Homo sapiens: one gene and its partners. The main gene of each other region encodes a partner of the protein of the gene in region 2 in a complex. Each region holds a gene or a part of one and is shown on either strand. Other genes may lie near its edges. The genes, in order: THOC1, CHTOP, SARNP and THOC2.

Region 1 (7,040 bases), on a different chromosome or scaffold from region 2:
AGCAACAAGTTGGTTTTCTTTTGGTGGTTACCCTTTTAATATACATGAAAAGGAATATTCAGTATTCCTTTCCTACTCCTGAAGATTACAAGGACTGCCATAATTTTAAATTACTCACTAAACATCTCTGCTTTCCCCTTCCATATTATTACTGTCATCTAGTTAAGTTCCACGTTAATAAAATTTTTTAATTAAAAAAATTTTAAATCATTCATGACTTTTTTGTGTTTATAGTCAATAGTAAATTTACTGTCATATTTTTCAATTTTTGTGCTCACCGTTGCCTTCTGTATCCCACTCCATTCTTATGGGTTCAATTTCCTTCCTCCTGAAGAACATCCTTGAGTAGTTTTTTTCAAAATGAGGGTCACTGAGTGGTAAGTTATCCTGGTCTTTAAATAAAAATGTCTTTCTTTCATCGACAGTCTTGAGTATATTTAACTCGGTATAAAATTCTAGATTGAATGTCATTTTTCTTTCAGCACTTTAATATTTCTCTACTGTCTTCTGGTATTAATGGTTGATATGTTAGAAATCTGCTAACAGTCAAACTGCTGTGCCTTCCCAGTATATTTGTCTTTCTTATCCCTTAGTGGCTTTTAGGTTTTCTCTGAATGCCCACAGTTATGGCATGATGTAATGAAGAGTAGATTTATCTTTCTTTATCCTGCTTGGCAGTTGTGACACACTTTTAAGCTGAGGATTTGAGATTTCCTTCAATTCTTTGCAATCCAGTTTCTCTACCATTCCCTCCATTTTCTTCTTTGGAAATCCTACTAGACAGATGTTGGAAATTCCCAATCTATTCACCATGGCTTTTAACTGCTCTTCCACTTAAAAAAAAAAAATCTGTCTGTGCTGCTTGCTGGATGAAGTTCTCATCACCTTCTTCAGTTCACTAGTTCTTTGTTCATCTATGTCCAGTGTATAGTTTAATTCTGTGTGCTGAGTTTTGGTTTCAATTATTGTATTTTTCATTCCCAAGACTCCCGATTAGTTGTATCGACTGTCCTACTTCATTTCAGCCTGCTTTTGTTTCATGATTTCTTGTTCCTTTTCAATGGATGTTATCTCATCGATTATCTTTTTGAGTATCCAAAACATACATAAAGTCTTGGTCAGGCTATATATTTCATCTGGAATAAATATATATATATATCCCAATAGTTGATTTTGCTGGTGATCCTTCTTAGCATTAGATTTATGGATTTTGGAATTTTAATTTATCAGAGTTTTGAACAGGAGCCTTTTCTTTTGGGATGTTTGTTTACTTCCTTTCCCCTCCCTCTCTGTGTACATCCTTCCCTGTCTAGCAGTTTTGCATCTGCTTCTACCAGGGCCCCTGAGTCCAAAAGTCTAGAAGAAGTCTTATGATGACTTCTTGGAGCAGCTGTTTCATAAGTATACTGAGCATATCACATATCTGGTCACTGAGCAAGCAGATGGACACAAAGCTGTCTTTGTTATCCCTAGGCTCACAACTTCCTATAAAACCATAGCCCTTGGCAGAAGACTGGCAATATTTTTTCTTAGTTTCTTCCCAAAACTGGATAAAAGTTCCACCCTAGTCCTTGGCTTCAAGAAGTGAATCTGGCTCTGGCCCCTTGTCCCACATGGTGCACATTTAGTCTCTGTTACTTGTAGCCAAATTCCTGGACACCACCACCTGCCTTGGATAGAGAGTCCAGCAGGCCCAGGCTGCAGTTTTGCTCACTACTTGGCATTTCTGGTCCATGAAGATATTTATCTTGTTTCTGGAAGCCCAGCCTTGTCTCTTTTGTTTTCTCGTTTATATTTTACCCGTCATTGCTATGTGTTTGGAGCAAAGGGAGTGAGTCGAAACATAAACTCAATGTGCCATCTTGACTAGAAACTTTACATAATCTTGTAGCATTATATTTGAATAAAATTTACTTTTTAAAATGTATAAATAAGATTAACAAGGAACTTTTAAACCCCTTACTTGCACCTAAATAATAATTATGAAATATTTTCATATACAAATTAAATCCTAACTTGACATTTAAAATATATAGACATGAAAGTAATTAAACTGCATTTATTCCAAAATTAGTTTACAAAACAGACTTAATGTAGAACTACTTTCACCTTTGAAACCAAATTAGTCCTACTTCTGAAAGGAAGAAATGGGACTTTCAAACTAACATTAATCAATCAGCTTTAACCCAAAGTAAAATAAGAAACATTTCTATTCAGTTTAACTTAGAAAGGCTGTCAGCTAAACGGAAATAAAACAAGACCATTTCTTATTATGCTTAATGAAAAAGAAAAACTTATACCTTTTCACTTGTTAAAAATTTTGCAAAATATACATGTTCTCCTCCTGTTTTCAATTCTTCCATCTTTTTTCTTGAGGCCTGAGTATCATCTAATTTATAACTCTTAAAAACAGCTAAAACTTCTTCAGAATACTGCAAAATAAAAATATTAGTTTTATTCGACATTGTTACCCAAATTTGTTTAGTGCTTTTCTGCATCAAAATGCCTAGAATTTACTCCCAGTCAATCATGTATGTAGACTGTATATTGCAAGGCACACTAACAATACAAATTATGATAGCAGAATGGGAGTTAAAACTATTTTGTATGATATTTCACTTGTTGCAAAAGTAGGTACAAGCTCCCTACTCCTAAAGAAATATAATTTCTTGGCCAGTGGTGGTGGCTCACGCCTGTAATCCCAGCACTTCGGGAGGCGGAGGGGGGCGGGTAACTTGAGATCAGGAGTTTGAGACCAGCCTGGCCAACATGGTGAAACCCCGTCTCGACTAAAAATACAAAAATTAGCCAGGTGTGGTGGCGGGCACCTGTAGTCCCAGCTACTCAGGAGACTGAGGCTGAAGAATCCCTTGAACCTGGGAGGCTCCGTCTCAAAAAAAAAAAAAAAAAAAACGAAGAAATATGATTTAAGAAGTCTGTGTAAGGGACAAATAGATTAGGGAACATTTTTAAGAGTGTACAGAAATTTACCAGTGAAATTGTTTAACCACCTGTGGAAACTCTTACGCATTTCTTGTGCTAAAAACTGAGCAAATAAATTCCACCAAATTCTGTCCAGTTAGAAGACAATTCCAGATTATTTCTCACTAACCACTTAATCTGAATTTGGATGGTGCTGCCCCCACAAAAAATTGCATATAAAACAAAAACTATTAAAAATAACATAACACACACCATGCTATTCTGAGAACTACCTATTTATCTTAGATTTTAATTATGACAAAAAAGGACAACTGATCTTTAAGTAGCCAAGAAAAATATAACAAATTCTTCTAAAACAGGATTGGCAAACTTTTTCTGTAAAGGACCAGAGAGTAAGTATTTCAGGCTTTGTGGCCTTTATAATCTCAGTTGCAACTACTCAGCTGTGCCATTATAGTGCAAAAACAGCCACAGGTAAGTGGATGGTCATGGTACTATTCCAATAAACCTTTGTTTATAAGCAGTAGGTTAGATCTGGCCCAGAGCCATGACTTGAGGACTTCTGTTTCAACAAGATAGCTAAAATAATTTTGTACAAAGATAGAATATATTCTGCAAAATATCAATTTATGTTAACAACACTCATTATATTCAAAAAAAGCAAGGCTGTAATGACGAACTTTTAAATATCCGATTCTTATATACTACTTCACAATATTAGTGGTTTAAATATTAATTTATAATTTCACTTGTTATGAAATTGGTATAAAAATGTAAGAGGCAGAATTACATAGTGAAAAGTATGTTAGACAAGATTAAGTTTTAGCTCTATCACTGTCTATAAAATACTGGGCTTCTGATAGTCTGTCAATGGCAACTTACCTTGAGAAAAGTTTTCCATGAAATCTTCTCATAGCATTGCACAGGGTTCCTGAAGTAATCCTGAAGTGACCAGAATTTTCGATACAGGTTGTAATCAATTGGAATAGAGCTAATAAAATAAACGTTATATTAAATAAATCATTCAAATTCTTTTACAAATATCTAAATATTCTTAACTTAGCTTTGGTCACAAACCGTTTTCAGAAGCTAATGAAAGTTATCAGAAAAGTACACATTCACAAATGCTTATATAAACTTTTACAAATCATTTTAGGGAACTCATAGACCCCAATAGACTCTTTATCTACACTGGTGGAGCCCCTGAATTTTGGAAGGACACATGGTTATTCAGAATTAAAGATTATGTTTCCCAACCAATCTTGCTGCTCGCATGGTCATGTGATTAAATTCTGGCCAATCAGTTGAGAGCGGAAGTCATATGTGCAACTTTTGGGCCATATTTTATCACTGGCCTTTTCCTCTTCCTGCTGGCTAGAATGCAGATGTGAGCGTGAGCCACCTTGCACTACAGGAAAAAGGGCAAACACCAAGATGATGGAAGAAGAAGGTAGAAGAAGCCTGGGTCTAGGCAATCTCACCGAGCAGTGCTCCCTTACCAGCCTTGGACTGCCTGCTTCTAGACTTCGATATGAGGGGGAAAAATCAACTTTTATGTTGTTTAAACCAATGTTAATCTGAATCTATGTTAAAAGTCACAGGTATCATATCCTAACTAAAAATATTATATCCTAAGAAGCACCAGTATGAGAAAAACATATATGGTACATATCAAGTTAGCATCACAAAAATAAGCCCTTTATCTAGTAACTTTATTATGGCACTACTAATTCAACTTCTAATCTTGATATGTCACAAATCTACAGTGTCAATACATATTCTTTTAATTTAAATTTTTTTTTTTAAAGGAGTCTCACTCTGTTGCCCAGACTGGAGGGCAGTGGTGCGATCTCAGCTCACTGCAAGCTCCGCCTCCCGGGTTCAAGCGATTCTCCTGCCTCAGCCTCCTGAGTAGCTGGGACTACAGGCACCCGCCACCATGCCCGGCTAATTTTTTGTATTTTTAGTAGAGACAGCATTTCACCGTGTTATCCAGGATGGTCTCGAGTTCCTGACTTCATGATCTGCCCACCTCAGCCTCCCAAAGTGCTGGGATTACAGGCGTGTACCACTGCACCCGGCCTATTCTTTTAATTTTTAAAACAGCTAATATCTGATAAACGGCTAGTATCTGAAGCACGTGAAAATCAACAGTGAAGAATACTGACTTTTAACTAACAAAAATCTAAATCTAGTTCTTGCCAAAGCTTTCATCATGAATTAGTAGTATCTGAAAGACTCTAATGGGCATGTTTACTTTCGCTCTTCCTAAACTTTTCCCTAGTAACAACTCTGAAAGTAGGAAAACAATGATGTACACATTAACTTCTCTCTATAATTAAAGCAGCTTCACTGATTTACAACAGTAAGATTATACCTCTGGGTTTTCTATGAATTGGGTTTTTAAAAAAAGCCACAGGCTGGGCACGGTGGCTCACACCTGTAATCCCAACACTTTGGGAGGCTGAGGCGGGCGGATCACGAGGTCAGTTCAAGACCAGCCTGACCAACATACTGAAACCCCATCTCTACTAAAAGTACAAAAATTACCCAGGCATTGTGGTGCGTGCTTGTAGTCCCAGCTACTCAGGAGGCTGAGGCAGGAGAATCGCTTGAGCCCAGGAGGCAGAGCTTGCAGTGAGCCGAGATCACAGCACTGCACTCCAGCCTGGGTGACAGAGCGAGACTCCGTCTCAAAAAAGAAAAAAAAAAAAGCCGCAAAAAGAACATTCCCTAAAACGTTAAAGTAAATAGAGAAAAGAAATAGCACTATATAAATTATTTACATTCATGAAAGAACAAGAACCAATATTTGTATAGTTCCATACATTTGATAAAGAATGTTTCTGAAGTGCATGTGCACACACACACTGAGTAACAAAATGTTACTCAGTTACAACATGTAAGATTGAATATAATAAATACCTCTTGAAATGTACCAGGAAAGTTTGTCTCTTAAAAATGGGGCTACCTCTAACAGAGAATGAGACTCATGCAACCATTATATGTCCCTTTTTGTCTCAATTGCTAAGAACTTCACATCTAATTTAACACTTAATACCAATCACAATATTATTCCATGTTGCTAATTACCATCTCCTACCTGTAAAAGACTTTTGATCTCTTCCCTTTTATCTTTAATTGGCTTGGTGGGTATTTGAGGTGTCTTACAGAATAAATTTTGAAGTAGTGTTAATATCTTACTGTTAGGCAGTTTTTACAGTTGAGGCATTAATATATTTTTAAAAATTTAAAGTCCCCTCTCCTAGATGCTGTCCCTTGCTCTTTTCCTTCACAGCTGAATAAAATTCTTCAAAGAGTTGTCTATACTCCATGTCACCACTTCATTACCTTCCTGTTCATTCTTCAACCCACTTGCAATTTGCCTTCCACCTTCAACACTCCACAGAAACTTTTGAATTTTCTGTTTACCCACACAAAGCAAATGTAACCAATTATTGTATTTGCAAATAATAACAAATCAGAGACCCAGTTACTATGTAAAATAGAATGTCTTGTAACTATTTTAACCAAAAAAACTCTGGAAAACTTGATATATTTTTTTAAATGTTCAGCTATTTTACAGGATGTTATACATTGAAATTTCTTAACAAAAATGTTTACTGGTGTATTTGAGCCAAATCTGAAATGGACTTCATATTGTAGGTAGATGGGTAATGAGTTCTGCTTTGTAAATTACAGTGCCTAAGACCATCTGGTGATAACAGCTGTCACAAAGTAATTCCTCACGTATTTTCTCCCTCTATTCAACATTAGTGACTGTGACAGAGGCAGCTGAGTGTTGAGTCTTATTTAAGTGATTTACAAACATAACCAATAGGGATGAATTGTCTATACAGTCTTAGGCAAAATCTAAGCAGACAAAACTGCACTGGCCAGTGTCTTTTGGGCTGTTTACACTTCAGGTGACTCATCATCTTGTAGCCTACTAACTTGCCCCAGAGCCCTTATGTTGCTCAGGCCAGACCTTAAAGCCTACTTTATTCATGTATAATGAATAAATAGGTCTCTAAAAAAAAATAATAACGATAACAAATAATAGCTACTAGACACTGAATAGACAATATTCTAAGTGC
Region 2 (2,781 bases):
GAGCCTTCTGGTTTAGAGCTTAGTGGAAAACTCCCAACACCTGTCCAGAAAAAAAACACTATTGAAGCCCCTGTGTATATTTGCTTTGGTTCTCTTAAAAGGTGTCTTGGGTCTTCCATAACTTATGACCTTGAAGTTGCCAAGGAATAATAACTGTTAGGAAAGAAAAGTTGATAACCAAGGGCTTGTTTTCTTCTCTCCCATTATATGATACTTACTGAGTGAAGTGCAAGCTAGTTTGGGTTTCAGGATGAAATAACATGTTTCCAAATTATCTTGACTTGGATCCTGAGAGACATCACGAGGGTGGGAGAGACTAAAATAGCTTTTCAAAAAGCTGAGTTTGTTTTGTTAACTGAATTCACACTGCTTCTCAGATAACCACAATTGTCAGTTGTCATAAGGTAACTAGAATTAAAGGTAGAAATAGCTAGGACAACTCAAAATATTTTTTCAAATCTCCCCTACATTGTTCCTGTGTCAGAAAAACTCAGTCTCCTGACACATGAGGTCAGCTAGCTCATTAGACTTGATAAGTTTAAGGACAGGTGAGATGACTTTCCAGAAGGGTCTCCAATAAACTTAATTTGAAAACTGTCTTGTCTTCACACCCCTGATGCTCTGTGCTCTTGTTACCACCTCCCTATCTTACCAAATGGGGTTATCTGTCATGTATTTTAATTATGAACTTAGTGAATCTCAAATGTTAGGTAATTTTATCTTAGGATTGATTAAGGTTTTTTAAAATTATAGTTGCCAGTTAATTATTTTCCTTTATTGATAGAATAAAATTTGTTAAAATAGCATTTAGAGATGATCATGTGATAGAGGATTCATTATGTGTGCTTTCCATGTGTTGCTTTCTACCCATTGTGTTTCCTTTTTTTCCAGATTTCTCCTCTTTGCCCTGCCCTTCAGCTTTTCTCAGCTAGGCCCCACTGCTCTAAGGGGCATTTACTACAGCACCTATTAAACTTACTTGTAACTGTCTCTTTTTTTTTTTTTTTCCCCTTTGGGCCAGGTCGGGGTATGATAGGTCGGGGAAGAGGGGGCTTTGGAGGCCGAGGCCGAGGCCGTGGACGAGGGAGAGGTGCCCTTGCTCGCCCTGTATTGACCAAGGAGCAGCTGGACAACCAATTGGATGCATATATGTCGAAAACAAAAGGACACCTGGATGCTGAGTTGGATGCCTACATGGCGCAGACAGATCCCGAAACCAATGATTGAAGCCTGCCCATCCTCCCATGAGAGACTCTTGTTAGTCAACACATCTGTAAATAACCTTGAGATAACAGATGAGAAGAAATCTGATTGATGCTGGATGGACCTATCACAATAGGCTGTGGACTTACTTGCCACCAGCTTGTGCATTTAGTGTGTTCCTTTTACTTTTTGATACTGTGTTGTATGAAACCCTTTTGTCCTTTGATTTGGTTTTTTGTTTTTGTTTTTTTAGGGGGGAGGGGGGGTTTCCCCTCCTTTGCCCAGACTTCTCTTTGAACACAAATGCATTAGCCTTGTGGCTAGAACACCCTCTTCCTACCTCTGTCTCCCCTCACTTGTCATATGCTCTGACATGCTAACATTTCTTTTGTTCATCCCTGTTGCCCCCACAGAAACATCCCAGAAAAACCGGTCAGTGTTCCTTCCTCCCTGATCCTTAGGTTTCTGAAATAGGGTTCTGTTACATCCTCTTCGATAGCCTGTTTAAAATGTTTAGAAGGTCTGGAGCTCAAAAATGCGTTCTTCCACATTGATAATTTAGTAAACTGAGAACATTGACATCACTACAGGGCAGCATAAGAGGTTGCTTACATGTGGTAGCAGCTCTGGTTTGATTCAAGTTGCTACCATGTACATTGACAGCACATATACCATAACCAGCGTGTTGGGTTGAATTGCACTTTCTACCTTTGTATGAGATTTACAGACTTTCCTTCTGGGTTTGTATCATGACCAGAGGGGTACTATAGGGTTGGTTTATACTGCAATATAGAGGATCAGAAGCCATTTGATTTGGTAGGTGTGTCAGAAGGGAGAATGATGGCAGACGAACTGCTGGAAGAGGTCAGAAGATAGCCATGCTAAAATGCAATTATATCCTCATGTTTATCCCAAACTAATCTTGGACTTTTCCACTCATTAGCTTTGTTTTGCCCTTGTTTCCCTTGAAGGTTTAAGTTCAACCATATTCTGTCAACTGTTCAGTTTCAGTGGAATCTTGTATTTCTGGTTCATTATAACAAACTGTTCGCTTAAATCCACCCAGGACTCTCTTTATTTGAGGTGCCTCAAAATGCCATGGCTACTTTAATGATGTTTTTTTTTTTTTTTCTTGTGACCGAGTCTCGCTCCTGTCACCAGGCTGGAGTGCAGTGGCGCGATCTTGGCTCTGCAACCTCCAACTCTCTGGTTCAAGCGATTCTCCTGCCTCAGCCTCCCGGGTGGCTGTGACTACAGACATGTGCCACCACACCCAGCTAATTTTTGTATTTTTAGTAGAGATGGGGTTTCACCATGTTGGCCAGGATGGTCTTGATCTCTTGACTTGGTGATCCACCCGCTTCAGCCTCCCAAAATGCAGGGATTACAGGCGTGACCCACTTTCAGCCTCCCAAAGTGCAGGGATTACAGGCGTGACCCACTGCACCCAGCCACTTTAATGATGTCTTGATATACCCCTTGTATGGTTGAGAGTTTCTTTCTTCTTACTTGTGTTAAAATTCTGGAGAGCCTGTGGCTTTGAGCAGAAAGTGAAGAATTTGACTTCCTCTGAGCTCT
Region 3 (7,040 bases), on a different chromosome or scaffold from region 2:
TTTTCCCCTGGAACCCCTAATGGGTTTAGAACAGATGCTCTGCCTGTATCTCCTGAAGAGGCACCAAAGATCTTGTTTAAAAGGGAAGCTAGGCTGGGTGTGGTGGCTCATGCCTGTAATCCCAGCACTTTGGGAGGCGAGGTGAAAGGATTGCTTGAGTCCGGGAGTTTGAAACCAGTCTAGGCAACATAGCAAGACCCTGTCTCTATTAAAAAAAAAAAAAAATTAGCCAGGCATGGCACATACCTTTAGTTCTTAGCTACTGAGGAGGCTAAGGTTGGAGGATTACTTGAGCCCAGGGATTCAACATTACAGTGAGCCATGATCATGCTACTGCACGACAGCATGGCAACAGAGTGAGGCCCTGTCTCTAAAAAACGTGGGCAGCGAGGCAGGTGGCTAATGGGGAAATCAGACTCCCCATTTGAGGATATAGCCAAATAAAGAACCAGGAGAAGCAAAACTGGCCCGCACATTCCAAGTGGACATACGTTGGGGGAGGGCTTGGCCTCAGGGTTTGTGCTTATATAATGTCTGGGTTTCAAAAGTCTTATCTCCTCTGTGATTTGAACTTGCTGAAGTACTGCTAGTGCTAAATTGAATGGAAAAAAGTTTATAATGGTAGTTTAACAAGATAGTGGTCTAGTCTTGCCTCTCCGCAAGAAGAGAGGCTCCATTTATTTTCCTGAAAACTGTTTCCTACTTGGCCGGGAGACTTAGTGAAGATATATCAACTAGAACATTCTAGAGGTTCTCAACTTGAAATCCCCATTTATATTCCGTATTCACTTTATCTTAGTGGTAGTAGATCAAGGAAACTTTCCCCCTTGACTTTGTTAGTAAAAAATGTGGTGGGACTTAATGTTTGTTGGAAACCTTCCTTTTTTTTTTTTTTTTTTTTTGTGAGACAGAGTCTGGCTCTGTTGCCAGGCTGGAGTGCAGTGGCGTGATCTTGGCTCCCTGCAACCTCCGCCTCTCGGGTTCAAGTGATTCTCCTGCCTCAGCTTCCCGAGTAGGGACTACTACTCGCCACCACACCCAGCTAATTTTTGTATTTTTTTTAATAGAGATGGGGTTTCACCATGTTGGCCAGGATAGTCTCTATATCTTGACCTTGTGATTTGCCTGCCTCGGCCTCCCAAAGTGCTGGGATTACCGGTGTGAGCCACTGCGCCCAGCCTTATTCTTTTTTTTTTTTTTTTTGAAATGGAGTTTCGCTCTTGTTGCCCAGGCTGGAGTGCAATGGCGAGATCTCGGCTCACCGCAACCTCCACCTCCCGGGTTCAAGCGCTTCTCCTGCCTCAGCCTCCCAAGTAGCTGGGATTACAGGCATGCGCCACCACGCCCAGCTAATTTTGTATTTTTAGTAGAGGCGGGGTTTCTCCATGTTGGTCAGGCTGGTCTCGAACTCCCGACCTCAGGATTTTAGAAGATCCTTCCTGGGATTTTCTCAAAGTGGTGGGATTACAGATGTGAGCCACTGCTCCCAGCCCCTTATTCTTTTATTACATCTCAACAAATGGAATAGCCAATTAAGCAAAATTAGAACCAGATTTAGCTGAGAAAAACATTAGTACAAGATTACTAACTGGAGCCCTTTTCCTAGATACTGTTACTTATAAATTGTAGGTATATGGTACGTTAGAAGAAGGGGTCCTAGTATTCTTGACCTGATTATTTGAGTGATGTGATTAAAATTTACAAGTTTTTTTAGCTAAGGGTTCTAGTGATCCTTCCTCCTTGGGAGTTAAGCACTTAATTGTCCTACTGTTCTTCCAAAGAAATACTTAAGTGAGATACCTTGAGGAGGTGGTAAGGCTAAGAAAGTGGATTCCTGAGTAAAATGTCCTGGATTCCAATCCTCGTATTATTTGTGAAATTTTGGGTGAGTCACTTAATCTCTCCAAGACTAAATTTTCCTATCTATGAAATGAATTTAATTGCTGTGCCTACTCCATAGGATTATTATAAGAAGTAAATGATGCCAGGTACAGTGGCTCACACCTGTAATCCCAGCACTTTGGGAGGCTGAGGCAAGAGGATTGATTGAGCCCAGGAGTTCAAGACTAGCCTGGGAAACATAGCGAGATCCCCCTCTCTGCAAAAATTAAAATAAAGTAGTAAATGAGCCTGGATGCAGTGGCTCACGCCTGTAATCCCAACACTTTGGAAGGCGAAGTGGGCGGATCACCTGAGGTCAGGAGTTCGAGACCAGTTTGGCTAACGTGGCGAAACCCCATCTCTACTAAAAATACAAAAATTAGGTGTGGTGGCGTGCGCATGTAGTCCCAGCTACTCAGGAGGCTGAGGCGGGAGAATCCCTTGAACCTGGAAGGTGGAGACTGCATTGAGCCAAGATGGCACCACTGCACTCCAGCCTGGGCGACAGAGCGAGACTCTGTCTCTGGGGAAAAAAAAAAAAAAAAGTAGTAAATGAGATATTGCATGTGTAAAGAACTGCACACAGTACCTGGCATATACTAAGCACTCAGATGTTCATGGCTATAATGTTATTATTTTAATTTATTATTATTAAGGACAAGAATACTTATGTTTTTCTTTGAACCTGGCTTAATGTTTTTACAATAGTTCAGAGTACATTAATGAGGTACCCGCTATGGATTTGCTGGTGGTCATAATGAGAAAGGCAGAAAAACTGTGTAGGCAGTAGTTTATTCTAGTAATAAACTGTGATTAAATGATAACTTGTATAGGATTCTTAATTGCTTCATAACCATCATTCTTTCTTAGGTCTCTTCCTACTCACTAGAAAGCAGGTGCAGCAAAAGGGAGAAAATGAACATCTTTCTCAAGCTGAAAGAGTTAAAGACCAAGACAGTACTCCTGCCTGCTGTGTTCAGACAGGTGGACTAGTTAAATTGAGCACAGAAAGCTGGATAGCTGCCCTGCTTTTGATTTGTACAGGTGGCTGCTGTGGCCACAGGGACAAAGACAACTCCTTGGTTGGGGTTGAGAGTAGAGGCATTGAAAAATTGCTGTATATTTCTGTAGGTCTTTTTGTTACCTTTGCTTTTGACCTTGTAGTTTTGGGACACCCAGAGACACAGCCTGCCTATAGACTGTAGGACTATAATTTCCTTGGGATTTAAAAACAAATCCAGCTCAGAAGCACCACACAGACATTCTTTAAAAGTTTGTTTGAGGCCAGGCGCAGTGGCTCACACCTGTAATCCCAGCACTTTGGGAGGCCAAGGTGGGCGGATCACCTGAGGTTGGGAGTTCGAGACCAGCCTGACCAACATGGAGAAACCCCGTCTCTACTAAAAATACAAAATTGGCCGGGCATGGTGGCACATGCCTGTAGTCCAGCTACTTGGGAGGCACAGGTTGCAGTGAGCTGAGATTGTGCCACTGCACTCCAGCCTGGGTAACGAAGTAAGACTCTGTCTCAAAAAAAAAAAAAAAAAAGTTTGTTTGAACTCTTTGGAGACGGAGTCCCACTCTGTCTACCCAGGCTGGACTGCAATGGCATGATCTCAGCTCACTGTAACCTCCGCCTCCTGGGTTCAAGCTATTTTCCTGCCTCAGCCTCCCAAGTAGCTGGGATTACAGGCACCTGCGGCCATGCTTGGCCAATTTTTGTATGTTTAGTAAAGATGGGTTTCACCATGTTGGCCAGGCTGGTCTCCAACTCCTGACCTCAAGTGATCTGCTTGCCTTGGCCTCCCAAAGTGCTGGAATTACAGGTGTGAGCCACTGTGCCCTTGTTTGAACTCTTGCTTATCTGTCCTTCTGTTGGGTTAACAACGTAAATAAAGTCAAAGAAACTGTCCTGCTCTTTAGTGAGGATGGGTACATCTCTAGGGAGTAGAGGGTCTCTTGAGATTATGAGAGAATGAGATCTTTTTATATATGTGCCAAATTTTAGAAAGTCCTTCCTGGGGGAAAGACACCCGAGGAGCCTACCTGATTTCAGATGTTTTCTAATCCTGAGGCTGAGCTTCTGATGACTGGTGATAAGATGTGAGGGGGAGGTGGAGAAAGAGAAAATAACTGTTAAAGTGGGCTAAATAAAATGGTAGGGTTTAGGTTCTGATAGGAAAATATATAGACTCTTATACTGAGCAGTGTTGGACATGAATGATACAAAACACCTAGAATAATGGCGAGCTCCAACTCATGGTAAACTGAAATATTCTCTCATTCCCAGGCAGACATCATGAGTTTCACAGATGCTTGGAAAATGTCCACAGCATTTCTCTTAGAGAGTTGACCATGGCTGTCACCTTGATTCACCTGTTTTAAGAATCATTTCAAACTATTCAGAGCCTTCTATGGCTTTGCTGGGTGTTTCAAGCAAATAAGTTTTTCAGAAATACCACTCTGGCCCTCTTCCCCTTTCTTTCCTTGGTAACGTGTAAGCATTGTTCAACAAGTAGTTTGGGTACCTTCTAACTAGGTGTTACTAGGTGTAACTTTGGGTGTTATTCAGTGAAACCTCAGTTTTCCATATCCCTCAACTGCCAGAATTGCTTGAGCATAGAAATTTGTTTTATGGGTGTTTCTTACTGTTTATTTTATTTATTATTTTTTTTTTTGAGACAGAGTCTCACTCTGTCACCCAGGCTGGAGTGCAGTGGTGCAATCTCAGCTCAGTGCAACTTCTGCCTCCCAGGTTCAAGCAGTTCTCTGCCTCAGCCTCCCTAGTAGCTGGGATTACAGGCGCCCGCCACCACACCCAGCTAATTTTTTTGTATTTTTAGTCGAAATGGGGTTTCATCATCTTGGCCAGGCTGGTGTTGAACTCCTGACTGCCTGATCCACCCGCCTCAGCCTCCCAAAGTGCTAGGATTACAGGTGTGAGTCACCGTGCCCGGCCTCTTACTGTTTCTTTACCCTACTTGTCTTATGAGTATTGAGGCCCTGCCTAAAATTAAGTTTTTAGTCATTCTAGGTACAACATAGTATATGCTAGCTTATTCAGTTTCTTATGTATCTTATCTCTTTATGTGATCCTTAGTTCTTGGCACAGGGTTGGTTAGCACCTTGTGACCAATAAGTTATCATTTCATTCCCATTTACTTGGTGAATGGAGGCTAGTTTGTTTCAACTCTTTCCTTTGTCCTTGAACAGTCTGAAGATGATGAGAAACTGAAAAAGAGGAAGGAGCGATTTGGGATTGTCACAAGTTCAGCTGGAACTGGAACCACAGAGGATACAGAGGTAAAAATATACCTGGAACGCTTCATAGACCTTGAAGGGAAATTAGAGTGAATAAACTGAATGGAGAAATATTGTTTCCCCACCTATTTATTTATTTATTTATTTACTTATTTAAGTCGAGTTGGGGTCTCTGTTGCCCAGGAAGTGAGAGTGAATAAACTGAGTAGAGAAACACTGTTTTCCCACCTACTTCTTAATTATTTATTTATTTAAGTAGAGATGGGGTCTCATTCTGTTGCTCAGGCTGGTCTCAAACTCCTGGGCTCAAGCGATCCTCTGCACTCAGCTCCCAAATTGCTGGGATTATTATAGGCATGAGCCACTATGTCTGGCCACCCACCTACTTCTTAAGTGTCCAAATATTTTGCTTTTTTCTTGATAACTTTTTTTCTGGGTGAAGTGGCAACACTGAATTCCATCAATATACTTAATTCAGTGTTAGAGTCTGTTAGACTAGTGGCAAAGAGTATAACGTTTGGAATCAGGTAGGCTTGGATTCTAAAATTGGCTCTGGGCTGGGTGTGGTGGCTCATGCCTGTAATCTTAGCACTTTGGGAGGCTGAGGCAGGCAGATCTCTTGAGCCCAGGAGTTTGAGACCAGCCTGGGCAACATGGAGAAACCCTGTCTCTACTAAAAATACAAAAATTAGCTAGGCGTGGTGGCACACACCTATAGTCCCAGCTACTCAGGAGGCTGAGATGGGAGGATCACTTAAGCCCAGGAGGTCAAGGCTGCAGTGAACCTGGATGGCGCCACTGTACTCCAGCCTGGGCAATAGAGTGAGACCCTGTCTCAAAAAAGAAAAAGGCGGCCGGGCATGGTGGCTTACGCCTATAATCCTAGCACTTTGGGAGGCTGAGGCAGGCAGATTACCTGAGGTCGAGAGTTCAAGATCAGCCTGGCCAACATGGTGAAACCCCATCTCTACTAAAAATACATTTATTTATTTATTTATTTACTTATTTAAAAAAATTAGCCAGGTGCAGTGGCATGTGCCTGTAATCCCAGCTACTCTGGAGACCGAGGCATGAGAATCTCTTGAAACCGGGAGGCAGAGGTTGCGGTGAGCCAAGATCACGCCACTCCAACATGGGCTACAGAGTGAGACTTGCTCTCAAAAAAAAAAAAAAGAAAAGAAAAAGGCTTTGCCACTTAGTATTAATAAGTTACAGTACTTCCTGAGCCTCAGGTTTCATCATCTAGGAAGTGGAGATAATAAAACCTACCTCAAAGTTTTATTTAAAGAGTGAAACGATTCTGTATAAAAAGGGATAGTTTTAAAATATTTAATAAGAACTGGTTGTGCCTAACTCATTTCTGGAAAAGGACAGTGGACTCAAATGAGACTTCCTGTTCTTGTCACTTTGTTTACAGATAGTTTCTCAAAATGAAAGAATCCCAGCACTTTAGGAGAGCAGTGTGGGAGGATCACTTGAGGTCAGGAGTTGGAGACTAGCCTGGGCAACATAGTGAGACCTCATCTCTACTAAAAGTTTAAAATAAATTAGCTGAGTGTGGTGGCATGTGCCTGTAGTCCCAGCTACTCCAGAGGCTGAGGTGGAGGTTGTAGTGAGCCCAGATGGCACCCCTGTACTCCAGCCTGGGCAACAGAGCAAGACTGTCTCAAAAAAAAAAAAAAAAAAAGTATATTAGGCTGTTCTTGCATTGCTGTAAAGGAGAAATACATGAGACTAGGTAACTTATGAAGAAAAGAGGCTTAATTGGCTTACATTTCTGCAGGCTTTATGGGAAGCATGGTGCTGGCATCTGCTTGGCTTCTGGGGAGGCCTCAGGAAGCTTACAATCATGGTGGAAGGCCTTAAACAGCCATATCTGGCAAGAACTTACTATCTTG
Region 4 (7,040 bases), on a different chromosome or scaffold from region 2:
GACATTTAAGAGACCTAGTTGGCTAGTAAAACCTTGGATTAGTCAACCTGTCAGGGCCTTGGCATCTTTTTTTGTAATATGGTCATGTGGTTATACTTGTAGATAGTCTCTAAAGTCCTTTTAAGTTATAAAATTTGGATTCTTAATTGTTAAAATATTCCTAAAATGACTTCTTAATCACTTTGGAAAATATGTTGATTTTGTCTTATTTTTTAAATTTAGTGTCATGATACCCTGGTGCAGTTTGGTGGGTTTTTAGCATCTAATCTGAGCACAGAAGATTATATAAAGCGAGTGCCTTCAATTGATGTACTCTGTAATGAATTTCATACACCCCATGATGCAGCATTTTTCCTGTCTAGGCCAATGTATGCCCATCATATTTCGGTAAGTACAAGTGTCTTTGCTGCCGCTCAAGAACGATCCAAATTATTTCTTAACGGTTTTATCTGTAAGTACATATCACTACAGATTTTGGGGGAAGGTCTTGGCCCTAAACTAGGATCCCTTCTTTGTTTCCAATAGGGGTACGAAGCTGTGTGGTAGAGGTATACAAAAAAGGTGATGAGAAATTTGGAGTCTAATTGATCATTTAATCAAACATCTGCTGTTAGTGTTTACATATCAACTGCTACAGTCTCCCACTTCTTTCCTAACTAACTGCTACTTGATTTAATTATCACTTTGTTAGCACTATGCAGAAATTCCTGTGTTATGTATACACTCTGAAGGGAAAAAGACAATAAGGGAGTGGTGTTAGGCTGCTTCTTCCCCTTTAGATCCTCTCAATCCAGAGAATTGTTTGCCGTCTTTGTGTAACGTCTTACTGTTGTCACACCCCATGGTAGATCAGTCTCAGCTGTGCAAGAGGGTACCTGATTTCTTGACAGACAGAGGTGGGAGAATTTCTTCATCTTAGGAATTCTGACCTGCCCTGTGCTAAGTGAACACACTAATCAGCAATATGGAATCCTAGCAAACAGGAACACCTGGTTGTCTGTGGTTGGCTGAACTTTTCCAGCTCAGAAAATGGAGCAGGTCATTCAAGCTACTTTTTCTCTCTTACTTGTGTAAAATATTACCTTTGTCTTTTAAGAGATACAAAAACCTAAACAAAGAAATGGCATTTCCCTCTCAGGCTTGGAAGAAAACAGAAAACTAAATGAAAGTGGCTGTATAGCCAAGTCAGATATAAGTCTTTTATCTGTAGGCAGCATGCCACTCTCTGGAAAAGGTGTTTCCCAGCAATCTTGTGGTTGTGCTGGATGGGCATCCAAGCTGTCCTGGGGATCCTTGCTTTTGCTTCTTGAGTGAAAGCCTCTGTTGAAGAGCCTTCGTTGAGAGAGTGAAAATGTATATTAGGTGATTGCTATGTCCCCTCTATAAACTATCAGCAGGCTCTCTTGAGGATAATTCAGCCAAACGCTGCCCAGATTTTTTTTTTTTTTTTTTTTTTTTTTTTGAGATGGAGTCTCGCTCTGTCTTCCAGGCTGGAGTGCAGTGGCGCAATCTCAGCTCACTGCAACTTCCACCTCCCGGGTTCAAGCGATACTCCTATCCCAGGCTCCCAAGTAGCTGGGATTACAGGTGCCCGCCACCACACCCAGCTAATTTTTGTATTTTTAGAAGAGATGAGATTTCACCATGTTGGCCAGGCTGGTCTCAAACTCCTGACCTCAGGTGATCCGCCTGCCTTGGCCTCCCAAAGTGCTGGCATTATAGGCATGAGCCACTGTGCCTGGCCTGCTCAGATTCTTGAGACGAGATTTTTGAACAATAGTGAGAAGTACAGCAATAATTGTGGATATCAGTTCTATTCCATAAGTCTAGTTCCCCAGGCAATTTGAAATGTAGAACTGTTATGTCTCTTCATTTGACTGAAGGTGTGAACTTGAAGTGGGAGTTAAACTGACTTTAGACAAGGACATATTCATCTTGGGTAAATACGAAGTATAGCCTTCTTTTCTGACCAAGCCTATTTTTCTAACTAGATAGTGACTATGGGGTTCCTAGCAATAGAAATCACAGATTCAGACCCAGAGGACTGGGGAGATTGGAGCTATCATGTAACCCTCTCATACCTATAAACTAATTTTTAGTTTTAATTGTTGAGGTTGTGGTCCACCTTGAGACACAGGTCTGAAAGATAGGCTTTTAACCTAGTTCATATTCTAGATCTTGCCCAGAACAGGTAATTAGGCTGTCTTTTATGCAGATAATGTCAGCCCTATTTTATCCCGTTTTGTTAGAACCTTAGCAGAAGTCATTCTGCTCATCTAGATTCATATTAGTTACCTTCAATAAGACCTGTCCTCTAAATTAAAAAACACTCTCTGTTTTCCCAACTGCTATTCCCTCAGGTTTCTGATGCAATTGGGACTCCTTTTTCGTAACTAATGTTCTTTGTAGCTTTGTCACTTACGTGGTCTCAGTGGTTGTCAGCATGCTCTCTAAAATGGGGATAACAGAGCATAAATCTTCCCACTTCTAGAACAATTGTAAAATTCTAGAACAATTGTAAAATTGAGCACTCAGGAAGGAAGGCAGGTAACTGAGCTGTAAGGAGCTGAGACTCTTTTGCCTATCACAGTGTAGAACTGGAAGCAGAACCTTTGATCATCTCGTTTTGGGTTACGTGTTTAGCACAAATAGAATGATTTAAGTGATTTTCTAACGTAAGGAAGTAACTAGTTTTAGGACTTCCTTTAGGTTCGTATGAAGGGTGATACCTAACTTAAACAAAATTTTCTGGATGAGAGCTCTTTCATCCTAAAGAGACTGAAGGATGTGAAACAATAGCAGCAACTCTGTGTTATCTTCATATATATGTGTGTGTGTGTGTGTGTGTGTGTGTGTGTGTGTGTGTGTTCATGTATAATATATATGTTCATATATATGTTATCTTCATATATATAGAATATATAGAAAAAATATATATATTTTTGTGTGTGTATATATATGTATAATATATTTGGCATACACATCTCTGCAGCCCCTCCCATTGTACTAACAATTTTTTTTCCTCATACAATTAAGAATATGGCATTCCTCTGTTTTTTCCCCCAAATTAGGATAAACCAGTCAAACGAAAGAAGCTGCAGCATCAGTTCTCACATGCTTTAAACTTCAATATACCACAGCTTTTCACAGAAAAATTTATTTGGCTTAGCAGTAGAGTAACCAGTTGGTCCTGGTTTGCCTGGGATGTTCCCAGTTTTAGCACTGAAGTCTTAAATCCTCAGAAATCCCTGAATCCCCAGCAAACCCTGACAATTGGTCACCCTACTTAGCAGTCTTAAAACAAATTTCTCATAACTTTTCTTAGTGTTGATCCAGCTTTTTTTTTTTTTTTAATTTTTATTTTTTGAGACAGTCTCCTTCTGTCATCCAGTCTGGAGTGAAGGGGCATGATCTCAGCTCACTGCAACTTCTGCCTCTGGGGTTCAAGTGATCCTCTCACCTCAGCCTCCCAAGTAGCTGGGATTACAGGCCTGCGCCACCACGCCTGGCTAATTTTTTGTAGAGATGGGGTTTTGACATGCTGGCCAGGCTGGTCTCAAACTCCTGATCTCAAGTGATCTGCCCGCCTTGGTCTCTTGATCCAGCTTTTTAATTGACAAATTTTAACAGTTGGTAGGGTCTGCATGTAGTGATACTACATTCTGTCCTAGTTGGCTATTACTAGTTCCATTCTTCCTCTTTTCTCATGTTAAGACCTTCTATTTGTTCCCTTGAATATCTCAAAAGCAGGACTGGAAACCCTACATGTTCAATCCCTGATACAGCAGCAAGAGGGAGTAGGGTGGGGGAATGAAAGAGGAGAACATGCATATACCCTGTTCACTTTACTCAACAGGTCAGATTAGATAAGAACCCTCTGAGAATCTCCTAGTTGGCACACAGTACTAAAGACTGGAATAGCTTCCAGAGATGATTTATCTTAAAATAAACGTTGTTCATAAGAAACTAGAATTTCTACAACAGTTTTGAGATTGGTCATCTTTTGATTCTTTAGAAGGGAATATAGATTTTTATGCCATGAAAGTCAAAGCTATAAATTATGTTGTGTGTGTATGTATGTATGTATTTTTACTTTTTATCTACAGTCAAAGTATGATGAACTTAAAAAATCAGAAAAGGGAAGTAAACAGCAACATAAAGTTCATAAGTACATTACATCATGTGAGATGGTGATGGCGCCTGTCCATGAAGCAGTGGTCTCCTTACATGTTTCCAAAGTCTGGGATGACATCAGCCCTCAATTCTATGCTACATTCTGGTCATTGACAATGTATGACCTTGCAGTTCCACACACCAGCTATGAACGAGAAGTCAATAAACTTAAAGTCCAGATGAAAGCAATTGATGACAATCAGGAAATGGTAGGTTTTTGTTCTAGTAGTTCAAGTGCAATAACTTTATGGTATTCAATGTTACCTATATTTTGAAATTGTTTTAGCTCTGGTTCCTTAAAACAGTGATCTTGTTGCTATATAATATTTTCTTAAATGGGGTTTAATAGTTACTTCTGAGTGGGGGGCCAGGAGTTTGGTGACTAGGTGGAGGTTATGATTAATCAAAAATTATTTGAGTGTCCTTTTCTACTGACGACTATGCTAGTAACTTAAAGTGATTCATGTGACTCTAATAGCAAGAGCAGTAGTTCTCAAGAGGAGAGTTCTTTAGGAGAAGACTATTGAGAAGCCGAGTCTTGAAATGGACAGGCCTTGAAGGTAGATTAGGTTTGGAAATATGGAAGCAGATAGGGAGGTCACCATAGGGTTCCAGCAAAGACAGGAAGTAGATTGAGGTTTAGGGAGACCACTTTTACTGATTCACTTTCATGTAGTGAATGTACTTAGTGATTCATATGAATAGTTATGATGGGGCCAGATTATGTAGGCATTGGAAGTCAGGGAGAAAAGTAGACTTGGTAAAATTGAGAGCTATTTTAGATTCCTGAGCAGGATAGTAATGTAAAAAATGGTACTTAAAAAAGATTACTCATGACAGCAGTATGAAAGATGCTTTTTGACTAGCATTAGGCTAAAGACCAGCTAGGTGGCTTTTTGGGCAGTCTATTGTGAGAGCATAGACTGATGGAGGTAGTGGCAGTGTACAAGGCTTGTAAACCAGTCTTGATATAAAGGAGAGGGAAGAGTCAAAGATGACACCATGCCTGAGACTAATAGTGTCAGTGTTGCAAATGTAGCCTGTTCTGATGGTGTATGAAGATGCCATGACAGTGTTATGAGTGTGTTGAATGGAGATAAAAGTAGCACGTTCAAGTGGACCTATATTCATGTTAAAGTAGTTATAAACTATCAGCCTTTATCTCTTTAAACTTTTCAATTAAAAGAAGAAAGGTAATGTGCATATAGTTAGAAAAGTGTCTAATTGAATTCTTTGTAGCCCCCAAATAAAAAGAAAAAAGAGAAGGAGCGCTGTACTGCCCTTCAGGACAAGCTTCTTGAAGAAGAAAAGAAACAGATGGAACATGTACAGAGAGTTCTACAGAGATTGAAACTGGAAAAGGACAACTGGCTTTTAGCAAGTAAGTTGTTGGAATTGTTAGGTTCCTGATGCTGGTAAATTACAGAAAACAAAACATTATAACTTTAGAGGTGTTAAAGTGTATTATGTTTGTATTTCAACTCAGTGTTCCCTATCCCATTCTTTGGTTATTTGTTAATGCAGAATCAACTTCATGTTCACTGGAGGAACTGATATAGTTTGCTGGTGAAGTTAATTAACTTTTAACTACATATTGGCAGCTTGTCATTCAGCTTTTCTGTATAAAACATATTTCTGGAGAAATCATAGAAAAAAAGGTCCACATAGTAAAAATGATAATCATGACCAGGCATGACATTTGGTTACAAACTATAAATAGTTTGTGGTTTATAGTATTCTCTTCACTAAAGGTAATATGTTGTCATGTTTAGTGGCTTTGAGGCACTTGGGGAAGAAGTTTACCACTTAATATATTCTTCCTTTATTTTTAGAATCTACCAAAAATGAGACCATCACAAAATTTCTACAGCTGTGTATATTTCCTCGATGTATTTTTTCAGCAATTGATGCTGTTTACTGTGCTCGTTTTGTTGAATTGGTACATCAACAGAAAACTCCAAATTTTTCCACACTTCTTTGCTATGATCGAGTAAGTTTTTATTGCAACCTTTAAAAAGTTCTCACACAAAGATAGCTAACATTATAATTTATAGAGGTATTATTGTGTGTTTAGTTAAAAAGCATGAACTCAAGAACCAAGTGTCTGAACTTGAATCCTAGCTCTACTACTTTCTAGCTGTATGATCTTTGGCAAGTTATTTAACCTCTCTGTGCCTGTTTTCTTATCTGTAAAGCATAAGTACCTGCTTCATAAGATTGTTGTGAGGATTAAATGAATCACTACACATAAAAAGTACCTGATATGTAATAGGCACTCAAGGTTAAACTATTAACTAAGTATTTGAGTTTACGTGTTGTATCATAATAGGTAGAACTCTCTTCTCCATTCTTAACCTTCACTTCTCAAAAAAAAAAAAAAAGACAAAAAAGTTTACACCTTCACACACATATAAAAGCAGGGAAGCTTTTCAGTATGGTCATATGCACATTTTGCATTTAGCTTTTTTCTTATTACTACATTTTGTGGTTTAAAAACATAATGTGGCCGGGTGCGGTGGCTCATGCCTGTAATCCCAGTACTTCGGGAGGCCGAGGCGGGTGGATCACAAGGTCAGGAGATCGAGACCATCCTGGCTAACATGGTGAAACCCCGTCTCTACTAAAAAAAAAAATACAAAAAAATTAGCCGGGTGTGGTGGTGGGTGCCTGTAGTCCCAGCTACTCAGGAGGCTGAGGCAGGAGAATGGTGTGAACCTGAGACGCGGAGCTTGCAGTGAGCCTAGATCACACCACGGCCCTCCAGCCTGGGTGACAGAGTAAGACTCAGTCTCAAAACAAAACAAAACAAAACAAAAAACATAATGTATGTTCCAGTATGTCAGCTGCATATTTTTAATTTCTATCAG

What was found.
Region 1: CHTOP (region 2) and THOC1 share a complex: the UniProt entries of both Homo sapiens proteins name them as parts of the transcription/export (TREX) complex.
Region 3: CHTOP (region 2) and SARNP share a complex: the UniProt entries of both Homo sapiens proteins name them as parts of the transcription/export (TREX) complex.
Region 4: CHTOP (region 2) and THOC2 share a complex: the UniProt entries of both Homo sapiens proteins name them as parts of the transcription/export (TREX) complex.

Annotation. Positions count from the first base shown.
Region 1 is NC_000018.10:244,024-251,063, forward strand, and holds part of THOC1 (THO complex subunit 1), read right to left. Parts: intron 3,935-7,040; coding exon 3,826-3,934; intron 2,433-3,825; coding exon 2,301-2,432; intron 1,810-2,300; coding exon of another isoform or gene 1,804-1,809; exon of another isoform or gene 279-1,803; intron 1-278. UniProt on the Homo sapiens protein: Component of the THO subcomplex of the TREX complex which is thought to couple mRNA transcription, processing and nuclear export, and which specifically associates with spliced mRNA and not with unspliced pre-mRNA.
Region 2 is NC_000001.11:153,644,043-153,646,823, forward strand, and holds the end of CHTOP (chromatin target of PRMT1 protein), read left to right. Parts: intron 1-1,021; coding exon 1,022-1,227; 3' UTR 1,228-2,264; downstream 2,265-2,781. UniProt on the Homo sapiens protein: Plays an important role in the ligand-dependent activation of estrogen receptor target genes. May play a role in the silencing of fetal globin genes.
Region 3 is NC_000012.12:55,758,695-55,765,734, reverse strand, and holds part of SARNP (SAP domain-containing ribonucleoprotein), read left to right. Parts: intron 1-5,094; coding exon 5,095-5,184; intron 5,185-7,040. UniProt on the Homo sapiens protein: Binds both single-stranded and double-stranded DNA with higher affinity for the single-stranded form. Specifically binds to scaffold/matrix attachment region DNA. Also binds single-stranded RNA. Enhances RNA unwinding activity of DDX39A.
Region 4 is NC_000023.11:123,625,035-123,632,074, reverse strand, and holds part of THOC2 (THO complex subunit 2), read left to right. Parts: intron 1-222; coding exon 223-387; intron 388-4,106; coding exon 4,107-4,382; intron 4,383-5,412; coding exon 5,413-5,554; intron 5,555-6,005; coding exon 6,006-6,163; intron 6,164-7,040. UniProt on the Homo sapiens protein: Component of the THO subcomplex of the TREX complex which is thought to couple mRNA transcription, processing and nuclear export, and which specifically associates with spliced mRNA and not with unspliced pre-mRNA.